2 separate regions of the Homo sapiens genome follow, and region 2 is linked to region 1. The links come from fine-mapping of genetic effects on gene expression. Tissue or cell type: whole blood. Region 1 holds a variant in brackets; the other region holds the start of a gene. All regions are shown on one strand. Distances are from middle to middle.

The links. PIP is the estimated chance that this variant, and not a neighbour inherited with it, causes the effect.
Region 2: it holds the start of ATF7, and the variant in region 1 is fine-mapped to the expression of ATF7 in whole blood (TOPMed, PIP above 0.99).

What each region holds. Positions count from the first base shown.
Region 1 is chr12:53,338,328-53,346,429 of GRCh38, reverse strand. It overlaps a transcript of SP7 not described here. Among named protein-coding and RNA genes, the nearest start is that of SP7, 6.0 kb to the right of the region's middle. RefSeq lists silencers at 949-1,008, 1,399-1,568. The variant G/C (reference allele first, on the strand shown) is at 4,436.
Region 2 is chr12:53,623,292-53,631,393 of GRCh38, reverse strand. It overlaps ATF7 (activating transcription factor 7), which reads left to right and starts at 5,012. Exons shown (of 12, transcript NM_006856.3): 1 at 5,012-5,115. It overlaps ATF7-NPFF (ATF7-NPFF readthrough), which reads left to right and starts at 5,012. Exons shown (of 15, transcript NR_159377.1): 1 at 5,012-5,115. RefSeq lists an enhancer at 5,086-5,155.

The DNA.
Region 1 (8,102 bases):
GTTGTCTGGCAGGGCACATTAGATGTCTCTGTCTGTCTCCTCTGTTAATTGAGGTCCTTCTGCTATCCTGTGCCAATGTTCTTGGATTCCTAAGGTCTCCTTATCTGGCAAGAAAGGCCTTAGGGTCCTTTAGAGGGCCAGGTAGAGAGAGAGGGTGATCATCTACGGGTGTGTTAACTTCTTCTAAGACCTGGCCTCTGTGGTTCATGTGTCCCCATGAATGCCCATGGTGTGACTATGACATGTGGTGTGTGCCTGTGTCAGCCTCTGTGTGTCAGGGCAGGGGCTCCTGTGGTGTGCCTATGTGTTGGGAGGGGGTGATGGTGAGAGCCTGGCTCCCTCTCCTCCTCCCCCATCCCTTCTCCCATCTGGCCTTGATCAGCCGGTCCCTAGGGAGGGAGCCGCGGTTTCGGATACAGGAAAATGTTCCAGGAAGCGGCCACTGTGCTGGGCCCTGCTCTGGCTCCCCCAGCGGAAATTGTTCCAGGAGGGAGGGAGGAAGGGAGTGTTGAGATAGGATTAAGGGAGGAGTGGGTTGGTTCTTGGCTCCCCTTTCCACAGGATAAAGCTGGATAAGTTGATGGGAAGCTCAGGTCAGCCAGGAACCTGGATGCTGCCACTGAAATCACTGAATGCAGGAAAATGGGCCAGCAAAAGAGGGTCCCCTTGCCTATCTGCTTCTCTTTTTAATGAAGTTTCAGTATTGGGACGAGGGTGGCCCCTGAGGGTCCCTCTTCTGGCCCTGCTATCATGTACACAAGCTGGAGACCAGAGCACCTGGGTCTTGTCTGAAAGTGGTGTGGCTTGGTGGGGAGGTAGGGGGCATACGATTCAGCTCCCTTTTCTCCCAACTGAGGGGGCTTTGAAGCTTGGATCCAGGACTGGGAGGGCTGCCTAATTGGGATAATGGAGGTTAATGGGGCGCCTGGAGGGGGTTGCCACGCTCCTAGATCAAAGGGGCCAGCTCTTCCCAGCCACCACAGCTGGAGGTCACAGCTGGAGGGGGAGGGGGAGGGGCTTCGGGCCAGCCAGCAGGGGGTGCTCCGGCCCTGGAAAGCCCGTCCTCTGAGTCTCTGATTCTCTTCTTCGCTTGGAACGGCTTTTGCTTAGAGAGTGCATTGGGGAGCGGAGGATAAGAGAATGGGGGAGCTCTGAGATCCCTACTCCTCTCTGTGTGGGGTGATGGGGAAGAGAAAGGGCATGAGAGACTGGCAGGCTGGGGGCCAACGGGATGTTGGCACCGTCGGGACCTCGGGCACTGCAAGATCCGGAGGAAGAAGCTTGGATGCAGCCTCGAGAAAGCTACGGCGGAAGAGGCAGGACTCCGGTCCTGGGTTCGGGCGGCTGAGAAAGGACTGGGCCGGGCAGCGGGGGGCGCTGGCTGGGCGGAGGCGAAGGGGCATCCGGAGTTCCCCCGCCGCCGCCCCCTCCCCCGGGCTGGCGCTCCCTCTCGGGCTCTAATCGGCGCGGCGGCCGCAGCGGGCAGAGTCAGCGCCGCCAGTCTCCGGGACGCGACTCCCAGCAATTGTGGTCGGGACCGCAGATATGCAGCTGCCTCCTGCCCGGGCGCCTGGCCCGGCCGGCCCCGCCCGCGCCCCGCCCCCTGCCGCCCGCCCCTCGGCCGCGCCGGGACACTGAGGCACGGGATGGAGGCGAGATCCCCGGCGGCCCTGAGCCTGGCCTAGGCCGCAAGAGACCTCCCAGCAGCCCCGGAGCTCACGACCTGTCCTGTCCTTCTGAGGGTGCCTATCTCCCCCACAGCTGTGGCTGGGGGCTAAGACCCCCCAAATCCTGCCTCAGCTTCAACCGTCCTTCTTGCCTCACACGTCCACGCGAGGTGGGGGTGGATGGGGGCATTGAACAGCGCTTTGAAATCCAGAGGGGGGCGTCCCATTGAGGCTATGTGGGGAGGAGGTGTTAATGTTGGTAGCTGAGTCCCAAGGACCTTCATTAACTGAGGCGGTGGAAAGTGGGCCTAGGTAGGCTTATAACTTACAGCGGGTTCCTATGTAGGGGAGGTGATGGAAGGTGGGGAGAGGGAGAAATGGGTGAAAAGGGGGAAAGGAAATAGTTCAGGAGGGATTGGGGCAGAGGGCAGAGGCGGGGGTTCTTCTGGGAGACTGAGGGCCAGGTCCTCAGATACTGCCCTGGCCCTTCACTGTTGGCCGGATCCAGCAACTGTCAAGAGCCATTCTCAGAACTGAATAGATACCTCTAAAATGCCTGCATATCCTGTGTGCAAGTGCACACATCAACACACAGATCAAGGGAAGTCATGTGTGACTACTCACCCCTCACATCTGATTGGACACCAAATCCTCTCCACCTCACATCCTCAATATCACCCCTTCATTGACTTATTTTTTTATTTTTTTTTTTCTTGAGACAGAGTCTGGCTCTGTCGCCCAGGCTGCAGAGCAGTGGCACAATCTCAGCTCACTGCAACCTCCGCCTCCCAGGCTCAAGAGATTCTCATGTCTCAGCCTCCCAAGTAGCTGGGATTACAGGCATGTGCCAAAAATTGGCACAGCCAATTTTTGTATTTTTAGTAGAGAAGGGGTTTCACCATGTTGGCCAGGCTGGTCTCAAACTCCTGGGCTCAAGTGATCTGCCCGCCTTGGCCTTTCAAAGTGCTGGTATGTGCCACCGTGCTGGCCCCCTCCACTGACTTCTGCTCATCCTCTCTGCTACTGCAGGCCACACCTTCCCACATCTTGCTTGGACTGCTGCAACAGATTGTTTCCTTGCCTCCGATTTTGCCCTTCTCCCAACTGTGACAATACTGCTAGGCACCATTTATGGAGCAACTACTAAGTGCCAGACACTGTGCTAAGAACTCAACACTTTTTATTGCTAATCCTTGTAACAACCCTGGGAGGTTACCATATTAAGTTGCCCCTTTCAACAGGAGAGGAATCTTAGGCCTCAAAGGTTAAATAGCTCACCCAAGCTTGCACCATTGTAAATGCCTGATTTACCCAGAACCGCCTGGCTCTAAGCCCTTATTTCATTCTCCTCTCTGAAGTCAGTCATTTCTCTAATATACGAGTATTCTCATATATTGCCTTTGGATCAAGTCTAGGCCCCTTGCATAGCTGATTAGAACTTCTCCATCAGCCTCCACTCTGTGTTGCACTCACACTCAATTTTCAGCATCTCAAAAGTTGTTAATCCCTCATACCTCTGAGCCTTTGCATATACTCTTCCCCCTTCCTACAACACTCTTCCTTTTTTTTTTCTTTTAGACAAGGTCTCATTCTGTCACCCAGACTATGTTTTTTTTTTTTTGTATTTTTTGTAGAGATGGGGTTTCGTCATGTTGCCCAGGCTGGTCTCAAACTCCTAGACTCAAGTGATCCACCCACCTCAGCCTCCCAAAGTGCTGGGATTACAGGCATGAGCCACTGCACTGGCACCACTCTTCCTTTTTTTACTTGATAACTCTTATTTGTCCTTCAGTTTCTTTACTTAGTCATGCTGTCTTCCAGGAAGCCTTCCTTAATTCCCCCCCAACACTGGCTTAGATTTACTCTTTTGTCTCCTATAACATCCAGTACTTATTTTTTATTTTATTTTATTTTTATTATTTATTATTTATTTATTTATTTATTTTTTGAGACGGAGTCTCTCTGTGTCACCTAGGCTGGGATGCAGTGGCACAATCTTGGCTCACTGCAACCCCCGCCTCCCAGGTTCAAGCAATTCTCTGCCTCAGCCTCCCAAGTAGCTGGGATTACAGGCATCTGCCACCACATCTGGCTAATTTTTTTGTATTTTTAGTAGAGATGGGGTTTCACCATCTTGGCCAGGCTAGTCTCGAACTCCTGACCTTATGATCTACCCACCTTGGCCTCCTACAGTGTTGGAATTACAGGCGTGAGCCACCACGCCTGGCCCTCCAGTACTTATTCTATCGAGATACTTCCTACTCTTTTGTATTAGTTGCTGGTTAGTTTGTGAGGTGAAGGGATGAGTCTGTCTTGCTTGTTATTGCATGCCTAAGTCTAGCCCAGTGTGCTTAGCACAAAGTAGGTGCTTTCTGAACATTTGTTGAATGAAAGAATGTTCTTTAAGTTCATTCCACATTTCAAAAATCTGGGCTCCGAGGAAGAATGCAGCAGGCCAGAGAAAGCGGGGAGACGTGTGTATTTAGGAATTTTTTTTTTTTTAAATGGAGTCTCGCTTGTCTTCCAGGCTGGAGTGCAGTGGCACAATCTCGGCTCACTGCAATCTCTGCCTTCTGGGTTCAAGTGATTCTCCTACCTCAGCCTCCAGAGTAGCTGGGATTACAGGCACGCGCCACCACACCCAGCTAATTTTTGTATTTTTAGTAGAGACAGGGTTTGTTTGTTTGTTTTTTGTTTTTTTTTTTGAGACGGAGTCTCGCTCTGTCGCCCAGGCTGGGGTGCAGTGGCGCGATCTCGGCTCACTGCAA[G/C]CTCCACCTCCCGGTCACGCCATTCTTCTGCCTCAGCCTACCAAGTAGCTGGGACTACAGGCGCCCGCCACCACGCCCGGCTAATTTTTTGTATTTTTAGTAGAGACAGGGTTTCACCATGTTAGCCAGGATGGTCTCGATCTCCTGACCTCGTGATCCGCCCTCCTCAGCCTCTCAAAGTGCTGGGATTACAGGCATGAGCCACCTCGGCCAGCCTGAGACAGGGTTTTGCCATGTTGGCCACGCTAGTCTCAAACTTCTGACCTCAGGTGATCCACCCACCTCGGCCTCCCAAAGTGCTGGGATTACAGGTGTGAGCCACCTCACCAGGCCTGTATTTAGGATTTTGAAGGACCATTCCCTTGAGTTGCTCAGCCTCACTCCTAGGGATGATGTGATCAGAACTCCATCACCCCAACTTCTTCTTATGAAAGACACTAGTATATTTCATGGATCAGATTCTAGGGTATCGTTTTTACAAAGGGTCATTTTCTAGAGATGACCAGGTTCTTACTTAATTCAATGTTGTCCCATTTTAGACACGGGCATCCAGGACAGGTCCCCTTGTTTCAGAATCAGACCCCAGTCTTCCTCTTCCTTTCATTTTTCACTTTGTCCCCTGCCATCCAGATTCCTTCCTGCTCCTTCCATGGCACTTCTGTTTCTGATTCTGATCTGCCTCTCCTAAAGCTGCTGAATTATATCAGGGCTCAATGTCAATGAAGGAACCCAAGGCTCAGGGAAGAGGGGAGCCAGAGTCAGTCCCAGAGGTCCTGCCTTGCAGCCCTGGTGCTGGAAGAGGGGATGGGGAGACCTAGCAGAGAGGGAGGGAAGTTGTAGTCTGTCTGTACCTGTAAATTTGTGTACATATTTGTTGGGGTGAGGAACTCCTTTTCCAAGCTGTCCTATACAAAGGTTGCCAGCCTCTTAAAAGCTTCCTTTCTACCCTGTGTCCTCAGCTTTGCCTCCTAAAATTGGATCCTCTTCCCCAAGTACCCTGAGCCTAGTGTCAGAAATGCTGGGTCAAGGCACTCGGCAGTCTCTAAATCCTGAGGCCATGAATGGATGTTCCTTCAACCCAAGGAGCAAGCTTTCCTGGTCATCAGCCCCATTGCTCTTAGAGGACCCAACAGACTAGTAGCTGATCCTCAGGGTCTCTCATCTGTATGCCCACCATTTGTTGTTTCCTCTTTGTCTCTCCTGTGTCTTTCTGTTTCCCTGTCTCTGCGTGCCTTCTTCTTTCCTGTCCCCTCTATGTTCTCTGTCGCTGGAGTATCCACTGGAGACAAGGGCTGGGCTGGGTGCATGGGCGGGTAGTGGCCAGACCAGGGGCCCGGGACATGAGCGCAACTTTCCAAGCTTCTCTTCCAGGCCCCTGTGGTTGGGGAGCTCCACAGAGGGAGAGATGAGTCAGCGGGGCCGCAGAGCAGCGGGGGCCTGGGTGGGGGTAGGGATGCTGGGGTTCCCCAGGACCAGGGAGTTCGCTGGGGCCATCTGGGTCTCTGAACTCTGGTGTGTGTGTGGAGTATTGGATCAAAAGTACCTAAAGGTACACTGGAACTTCTTATACTAGTAGGAGTTGGAGGCAGCAATTTGCAGGACTGGCAGTGGCCTCCATATCACCCTTATCTCCAGATCCTTATAGGGAGAGGGGTTCCCAAATGCCCTTTAGGAGACCACAGAGATCTCCAGGGCTGTAAAGTTGTAATGGTAGCCCTGGGTATATGTATGTGACATTTGCCACATGTGTAGATACGTGTGTTGATGGGAGTCTGTGAGTCCATGTGGGGAGTATTCTAGGTGGCTGTGAGTCTGTATGCATGTATATATATACTGGTGTGTGCATTTTTATGATTGGGGGTTAGGGTGTCTTGGGGTAAGCATTATCTGTATATGTATATATCAGTGTGTGTCAATATGGATGCCTGCATAGTACAAATGTGTATGAATTATGTGTCACCTTGTGTGTGTGCAAGTATGCAGATCTGAATGTGTCTGTCATCAGGTATGTATTAGGGCATGTGTCAGTCTCTATTTCAGGGGCTCTGCTCACTATTCTCTGGTGATTCTCCCTAGGGTAGTCAAACCTTCTATAACAGCAACAATGAAGAGTTGGGAGTCCCTTTGGATGAGGCTCTTAGAGACAGCCCAGCCTAGAAAGGTGGTAGAGGGTGATGGTGTGGACGATGGAAGTAGCATCCCTTGGGAATAGGGGGTACAGGTCTCCCACTCTCCCCAGTTTTTTTTTTCTTTCTTTTTTTTTTTTTTTGAGATGGAGTTTTGTTCTTGTTGCCCAGGCTGGAGTGCAATGGCATGATCTCAGCTCACTGCAATCTCCACCTCCTGGGTTCAAGTGATTCTACTGCCTCAGCCTCCCAAGTAGCTGGGATTACAGGCACCCGTCACCACGCTCAGCTGATTTTTGTATTTTTAGTAGAGACGGGGTTTCACCATGTTGGCCAGGCTGTCTCAAACTCCTGACCTCAGGTGATCCACCCACCTTGGCCTCCCAAAGCGCTGGGATTACCGGCGTGAGCCACTGCACCCGGCCCCACTCTCCCCAGTTTTCATTCTGTTTTCACCCCACTGATCTTTCCAAAAAGATCCAAAATCATTTGGAGAACTGAGGCAGGTGCCAGATTCAACCCCCTCTAACCTACAAAGCCCACCCTGATTCTCCTAGGGGAGGGTGGGAAGGGAATGGTTCCTGTGGTTCAGCCCAGTCCTGGCATTGGGATATCAGAAAGGCATCATCCCACCCCTTCCGTCTGGGGCATCCATCCCTTGGAGCTCAGCGTCTGGGTGGCCATGGGCGGAGGCTGAGGGGCCCCCAGGGTGGTGGGGGGTGGTGGATAGAAACCAGATGCCTAGGGGGTTTATACTGGAAGGACCAGAGCCGCAGCCTCTACCCGCCCCTGCCACATGGCGCCTCTCCCTGGTCTGCCCCACCCCCTGGGAGGCTGGGCTGAGGGAGGCCTGAGAGGGTGGAGGTAGGTCCTTGGTTAGGGCTTCCAATTGCTGCCCCCAGCCCCTCAGGGCACTGGGAAGGAGACTGGGGAGCTGGACCCAGGAACACCAGAGCCTCAGCTGGGCTGCAGGACTATTTTTAAAAAGGACATGGAGAAGTCAGAACCCAGGGGTTCCTGAGGGCAGCAGCTGGGGGATTCAGGCAGCCCCTCTGCCTATCTTTGGCGCTGATCTCTGGTGGGGAAGAGGCTCTGTGTCCAGAGGGTGTCCTATGTTGACACATCGGGGCACTGGCTCACATCTTCCTGGGACTCTGCTCCTCCTTTTTATTTCTCCGAGAATAGTAGGGTTCGAATAGAGAATAGTAGGGTTTGAATACGTCTGCCCCTTCCCGGGTAGGGTTAGGGATTAAAGCCCACACGGGGAGTGAGAAGGTGACCCTTCCTTCCAACTCCTCTCCCCAGCCCTGTCTGTCCATTTATCTTTCCATCCTTCCTCCTTTTCCCCTTCAGTTTCTTCCTTTCTTCTCTCATCTAATCTGAGTCCCAACCCCCTCCTCACCTGCTATCTCTTCTTTAGAATCTAGACTTTCTCCTCCTCTGCCTCAGTTTCCTGCCTGATCTAACTGGGTCGGGCTTTTCTGCTGGTGATACAGGAATTTCTCTAAAGCTTCTCTTTCTCAACTTCTGAGTTCGGGGCC
Region 2 (8,102 bases), 280 kb before region 1:
TACAGACTAACATCTCTTATAAATATAGACACAAAAATCTTCAACAAAGTACTAGAAAACTTAAATCCAGCAACATGTAAAAAGATTATGCCCTATGACCAACTGAGATTTATCCCAGAAATGCAAGGTTGGTTTAACAAATGAAAATTAATCAATGTTATACACCATATTAACAGGAGACAAAAACCACATGATCATCTAAATAGACAAAACATTTGATAAAATCAAACACTCCTTCATGATAAAAACACTCAACAATCTAGGAATAGAAGGTAACTTCCTCACTTTGATTAAAGTACAGCTACCAAAAAAACAACAGCTAACAACACACTTAATAATGAAAGACTTGCCAGGTGTAATGGCTCATATGTGTAAACCCAGCACTTTGGGAGGCTGAGGTAGGAGGATCCCTTGAGGACAGGAGTTTCAGACCAGCCTGGTCAACATAGCAAGACCCCATCTCTAACTGAAAAAAGAAAGAGGCCAGGCATGGTGGCTTATATCTGTAATCCTAGCACCTTGAGAGGCCAAGGCAGGAGAGCAAAAAAAAAAAAAAAAAAATTAGCCAGGCATGGTGGCATGCACCTGTAGTCCTAGCTACTCAGGATGCTGAGGTGGGAGGATCATTTGAGCCCAGAAGTTGGAGGTTACAGTGAGCTATGATTGCACCACTCTAGCCTAAGTGACAAAGTGAGACCCGTCTCAAAAAAGAAAATAAAAAATATGAGTAAGTTTAACAAGAGAAACACAAGATTTGTACAATGAAAACCACAAAACACAGCTTGGCACAGTGGCTTATGCCTGTAACCCTATCACGTTGGGAGGCCAAGGTGGGAGAACTGCTTGAGACCAAGAGTTTGACACCAGCCTAGGCAACAAAGCGGGACCCTGTCTCTAACTTAAAAAACAAAATAAGTCCAGGTGAGGTGGCTCACACCTGTAATCCCAGCACTTTGGGAGGCCAAGGTGGGTGGATCTAACCCCATTAGAGATGGGGTTTCACCATGTTGCCCAGGAGTTTGAGACCAGCCTGGGCAACATGGTGAAATCCCGTCTCTAAAAAAATTTAAAAATCAAAAAAATACAAAATAAAAAACAAAGTAAACCTACAAAAAATACAGTTGAAAGACATTAAGAAGCTTTAAATAAATGTTAAGACATTCGATGTCCGTGGATTGGAATACGATATTGTTAAGATGGCAATACTCCTTGATCTACAGATTCAAGGGAATTCCTATTAAAATCCTAGATGGCTTTTTTGTGGAAATTGACAAGCTGACCCTAAAATTCATGTGGCAATGTAAGGGACCCAGTATATCCAAAGCAATCTCGAAAAAAGAGAACGAAATTGGAGGATTCATACTTCCTAATTTCAAAACTTACTACAAAGCTAAAATTATCAAGCCTTTTGATACTGGCATAAGGACAGACATATAGAAGAACGAAATAACATTGAAAGTCCAGAAGTAAACCAATATATTTAAGGTCCAATGAGTTTTGGCAAGGGTGCCAAGAGGATTGAATGAGGGAAATAATATCTTTTCCAACAAATGGTGCTGGGACAATTGTGCATGGAAAAGAACGAAATTGGACCTCTACCTCATACCATATACAAAATTATCTCATAATGAATCAAAGACCTAAATGTAGGAGCTAAAAACAACAAAATTCTTAGAAGAAAGCACACGTGTAAATCTTTATGATACTGTATTAGGCAATGGTTTATTAGATATAGATATGACACCAACAGCACAAACAAGATAAATTGGACTTTATCAAAATATAAAACTTTTGAGCTTCAGGCCGGGCGCGGTGGCTCATGCCTGTAATCCCAGCACTTTGGGAGGCCGTGGTGGGCGGATCATGAGGTCAGGAGATCGAGACCATCCTAGCTAACACGGTGAAACCCCGTCTCTACTAAAAATACAAAAAAATTAGCTGGGCGTGGTGGCGTGTGCCTGTAGTCCCAGCTACTCCGGAGGCTGAGGCAGGAGAATGGCATGAACCCGGAAGGTGGAGCTTGCAGTGAGCCGAGATTGCGTTACCGCACTCCAGCCTGGGCAACTCAAAAAAAAAAAAAAAACTTTTGAGCTTCAAAGGACACTATCAGAAAGTGAAAAGACAACTAACCTGCAGAATGAGATAAAATATCTGCAAATCATATATCTGATAAGCATCTAGTATCTAGAATATATAAAGAATTCTTATAACTCAACAATAAAGAGGCCGGGCCTCTTTACATGCCTGTAATCCCAACACTTTGAGGGGCCAAGGTGGGAGGATCACTGGAGTCCAGGAGTTTAAGACCAGCCTGACCTAGTGTCTACAGACATTTTTTTTTTTTTGAGTCACAGTCTCACTCTGTCACCCAGGCTGGAGTGCAATGGCATGATCTCAGCTCACTGCAACCTCCGCCTCCCGGGTTCAAGCAATTCTCCTGCCTCAGCCTCCCAAGTAGCTGGGATTACAGATGCCCACCACCATACCCAGCGAATTTTTGTATTTTTAGTAGAGACAGGATTGCCATGTTGGCCAAGCTGGTCTTGAACTCCTGACCTCGTGGTCCACCTGCCTCAGCCTCCCAAAGTGCTGGGATTACAGGTGTGAGCCACCGCACCCGGCCTGGAAAATTTTAAAAAATCATCTGGACATGGTAGCATGTACCTGTAGTCCTGGCTACTTGGGGTGCTGAGTTGGGAGGATTGCTTGAGTCTGGGAGGTCGAGGATGCAGTCAGCAGTGATCATGCCACTGCACTCCAACCTGGGCAACAAAGGGAGACCCTGCCAAAAAAAAAAAAAAAAAAAGGCCGGGCGCAGTGGCTCATGCCTGTAATCCCAGCTCTTTGGGAGGCCAAGCCGGGCAGATCACAAGGTCAAGAGATTGAGACCATCCTGGCCAACATGGTGAAACCCCGTCTCTACTAAAAATACAAAAATTTGCTGGGTGTGGTGGCGTGCGCCTGTAGTCCCAGCTACTCGGGAGGCTGAGGCAGGGGAATCGCTTGAACCCAGGAGGTGGAGGTTGCAGTGAGCTGAGATCGTGCCACTGCACTCCAGCCTGGTGACAGATCAAGACTCCGTCTCAAAAAACAAAAACAAACAAACAAACAAAAAACATCAATTTAGAATAGTACCTGGAACATAGTAAAATCTATAAATATTAGCTATTGCATGTATACAGCGATAGCCAATTGTTCCACCACGATTTGTAGAATCCTTTTCCCTCTGATTTTATTTTTATTTATTTATTTATTTATTTATTTATTTATTTATTTTGACACGGAGTTTCGCTGTTGTTGCCCAGGCTGGAGTGCAATGGCGGGATCTTGGCTCACTGCAACCTCCGCTTTCCAGGTTCAAGTGATTCTCTTGCCTCGGCCTCCTGAGTAGCTGGGATTTACAGGCGTGAGCCACTGCGCCCGGCCAACATACAAATTTTTCTTATATATTTAAGGTATGTTTCCATCACTGTATTCTTTTAAGTAGGAATTGTTTTAGGGGAGAATAGTTTGGAAGCCAAGACTCCTCTCAACTTTTCTCAATTCACTACATAAGAAAGAAAGATTTTACATCTGTTTCATTTTAGGTATCTAGGGAGAAATCACCCAGATTCTTCCTACCTCTCAGAGGGTGCTGTGAGGATAGATGAGATGCTAGACAGAAAGTTCAGAAAGCTGAGTAACATAAAGCTGCAAAAGGAGAGAACAGAGATTCCATAGATAATATTTTAAGTCAACTACAATTCGTTAAATTTTAAGAAAATTATTTATTTTATTTATTTATCGAGACAGGGTTTCACTCTGTTGTCCAGGCTGGAGTGCAGTGGCCTGATGTGGGCTCACTGCCACCTCAACCTCCTGGGCTCAAGCGATCTTCCCACTTAGCCCCCCGAATAGCTACTACAGGTGCAGGCCACCATGCCCGGCTAATTTTATATTTTTTCGTAGAGCTGAGTTTTCGCCATGTTGCCCAGGCTGGTCTCAAATTCCTGGGCTCAGGCGATCCTCTTGCCTCGGCCTAGCAGTGTTGGGATTACAGACGTGAGCCACTGCACCCAGCCTGTTTTTTGTTTTTCTTTTTTCTTTTCCTGGTTTGTCTTGAACAAGACATATAAATGTAAGACTATAGACTTTGCATTTGATATTTCCCCCGAAATCTTCCCAGGTCATAATTCAACTCCTGGTGTGTTACTTCCTCAAAGAGGTCTTCTCTCAAACACTAGGAGTAAAGCTTCTTCCCCACTCCTAGTCACCTTCTGTCTCACTATCCTGAAGCGCTTTTCACTATTTGAAATATTTGTGTTTATTGGCTTTTTAACTGTCTCCCCTTCCTCACTCAAATATAAATTCTACCTGGGTTGGTAACTCCTTAACCCCATGCTTAGAACAATGCTTTGCACGGGGGGTATAGCTCAGGGATAGAGCATTCGACTGCAGAACAATGCTTTGCATGTAGTATGCCCTACGTTTTGTGAAAATATTTGCTGAATAATATAGTGATTTTAAAAAATCCCCAAGCAGTTTCATGTATCTCATTTGATCATTACAACTATTTGAATAAAATGAGATTGTTAGTCCCATTGTACAGAGACTCAGAGAAGGTTTTCACCCAAGGCAATAGGGCTAGTAAAATGGTAGTGTTAGAATTGCTGTGCGGGTGGATTGCTTTGTCCGTACATGGACTTCATTTCTAGCGCTAAGGGTATTTTAAATTACTTTGCCGTTAAGGAAGCGATGACTCTGAAAGATAGTAGTAACCACCACTACAGGCACCTGTAAAGATCCTCTCTCCTTTTTCCTTTCTTTCTCCCGCTAGATTCTGCAGCCGAACACGTGTGACCTGTGTGGACAGTACTCGCTCAGTCTCCCTCCCCAGCCCTGCCCACAGTAAGCCCGGCCCCTTCTTTTCCCGGAGCCCCCGCCTCTCGGCCGCTTTCCAACTCAGCCCCCACGGATCTCGCCCTTCCCCCGCGGACCCATGACTTCTCGCGAGAGTTGAGCGCGCCTGGCCGGACGGGAGGAAAGTATCCGTTCCGCCAAGGGGGGAAAGGAGGAGCTGGAGACAGATTGTAGGACCGAGCGCGGGCAGGCGGGAGGCAACGGAGCTACCAGCCGGTAAGTCCTTTTAACATTAGCTAGTCCATGATCTGACGGGAGTCTCCCTTTCAACTCTGGCCAGTCCCAGCGTTCCAGGCTGGGGTCTCCCCTCCCAGTCTGTGTTGGACGGGGGCGCTGAGGCGGTGGCCGGGCCCTGTCTGAGGAAGAGGGTGGGGCATAGGCCAAAGCCGACCAATGGGAGAGAAGGAAGCCTCGATTGGCGGCGATGAGCGCTAATGGGAGATCGCTTTTACGTTGCCGAGCGCCGCCCTTCTCTCCCTACTCCCGCCTCCTTCCTTTGGGGGGAAGGCGGGGCCAGAGGCTTGAAGTGTGGGGAGAACTTGGTGTAAGTAGCCCCGGGGGGCACAGGGCGTGGCAAGGAGAGGGGAATTGAATCCTGAGGGAAGGGTAGTCTAGTGGAGCCTAATGGAAGGATCATGGGATGGGGTGGAATGGGAGAAAGAGGAGGGATACTAAACTAAGTTAGAAACCCAGGGCTTCCCAAAGAGTGGGATTAGGAGCTTGGAATTGGAAAAGGGTAATAGGAAGGAGGTAGGAATGAGTAGATGAGAACAAAGATCTTGATCTGGTGACACAACACCCCGTTGGGTTTGGCAGAAAAGATAGATGGGGTGGATTATTGGAAATGAGGGTCATGGCATTTTGATTGAATTAATTAAAAGAACATCAGGGACATGATATCAGAGAGAAAGTATGGATTTGGAGAAAATTAAGTGAATTAATTTAAGAGGACAGTATGGGTGAGCTGAGTCGCCATAAGGCATGGCTTCTGGAAGGATATGAGCCTTGAGAGCGATAAGAGGTGTTTGGGAAGGAGATGGCTGATATACACATGTCTTTAGCCTAGGTATCAGGTGGTTGGGATATTGATTTAGGGCTTCTGGTGGATATGGCACCCAGACTGGTGACCAGCCTCCAAGATGCTGGGATGGGGGTTGAGAAGGAGAAAAATAGAACGCTTTCATCGCTTCTCTGATTTTCCTTCTCCCTCTCTTCTATTACCCAAACTCTTCCCAGACACCAGGATGTGGTCTTGGGACTTAAGCAGTCCAAGTTGGAGCCCCATAGGGACTTAATATGTTGCTCTGAATTGCTTGTTATGTTCTCTGACTGGGGTGTTTACAACCCAGGGCACCTCCTACCCAGATTCCCGCGTTGCTACTTTCCTAACTTTAAAAGTTTGTTTTCTGCTTAACAGAGGGTGTTTTAGTATCTCTGAGGGTCATGTCATATTAAGTACAGGTGTGTAGGGGGTGTGCAGAGTTTTCTCAGCAAGCTCACATGAGTCCTGTGTTTAAAAATTTTGCAGTAGTGTAATTCTTGTAGCGATATCAGTCTTTATGGGCATTCTAAGCAGAAATATACTAAAATGAAGTTTGTTTTGTTAAATGTGGCTTCCCCAGTCATTCTCGAAGAGTTGTCGAATGGGTGGTTGCAGTTTGTTTTAGTTAACTTACATAATGTGTTTTTAAATAGTGTAAATAAAATAGACATGTTATTTCAGGAAAGTGAAAAATGTTCAGTTTTTTCCTTTGTGTCCAGACTCAGAAACTAAAGCTATGTCATAATATCTTAGGCCAAGGGCTGGGGAAATCAAACACAATTTGTACTTACACATGGAAGTTGTAAGGTAAGTGGAGGCTCTTGCGAAATGTAACATGTCTGTAAGAAAAGAAGCTAAAGAAAAGTTTGCAAGCTCTGCTAAGTAGTCTTACCAGTTCTTAATTCTGTACAGAAAAGGGACAGGGCTTTGCCCTTTGTTTGATAGTTGTGTATCATTTAATAACGAATTGGACTAATATAGCCAATTAATAACTTCTTTGCTCTTGCGTAGATTTTGCTTTTACATTCCTTCTCTTCTCCTTTTACTTTTGAGAAGGGAAATAATGTCTGAAATATCAGTAAAGCTATTACATGAAGAGAAACCAGAGTACGTAGTTGTATTAACCTTTGGTTTTCTGCAATCAGCTGAAGCCTTTCTCCCTGGCCAAGAAGTTGCCCCTATAGCACATTGAGACCAATTCATTGCTGACCCGTTAGCATTAACTACTGAGCTGGGTTCTAGTATTTCACAGTAAGTGCATTGCTATTGGACATTCAGAACATTTCCAGTTTGCCTGGCAGCAGTACAGAAAATTACCCAGTGAGAGAGCAGAGTCCCTTGTTTTGGTCTTCTGCCCTAGAATTGGTGATTGCTTTGACTAGGGCACTATTAAACCCAAGATTTTTTTTTTCTCACTAGTGCTACCATCTAGCAGAAAGCTAGAGTGATAACACTGCTCATCTTTCAACTTGTGGATCAAAGTTTACACCCTGTGGTAGTTTCAGTGTTGTAATTTTTAAACACGTTTGTTTACCACGGTTTTAAAATGTTAATAGCTCTACTTACTGTATCTTGTTCTCTTTCCTTTCCTCATTTCCAACCCAAAATGAAAATTGTTTTTTCAACCAACTCTTAAACTACTTCTTTGCCTGGAGTAAAGTCACTGGCTCTGTCTGAACACAGCTGCTCTGAAGTTCTCAGAAGTTATTGTTTTGTGCATGTCAAGACCGAGTTTTTCCTAGGCTACAGTGGGAGGGAGTTAGTGTTACAGCAGCCTCCTATCCACGTCTGATAAGGAGGAGCCTTCTCCTTGCAAGGAAGTTTTAGGTGGAACAGATAGAACTCCACGTAAATGTCTAATAAAGCTAGCTCTTTTCTTGAGACTAGTTAGCATACTGGTATATAATTGTCCCTTATCCCTTAATAAAAGTACTAAAGTTAAGGTACAGGTGTTTCTTTGAGAAAAACAAATGCAGCATTCATTTAAAAGGAAAAAGCATTCATTTCTTTTGTTGTTGGTTTCTCAGAAAATGGTCCTACGATTTTGGAGTTCATGAAAAAGTCTTCTGTCTCTTTAAAAATATGTCAAAGAAAATAATTTTTAAGCTTCTCTGACATTTACTCATTTTGACATGTTGCCTTCCCCTAAGGTTTTTTTAGG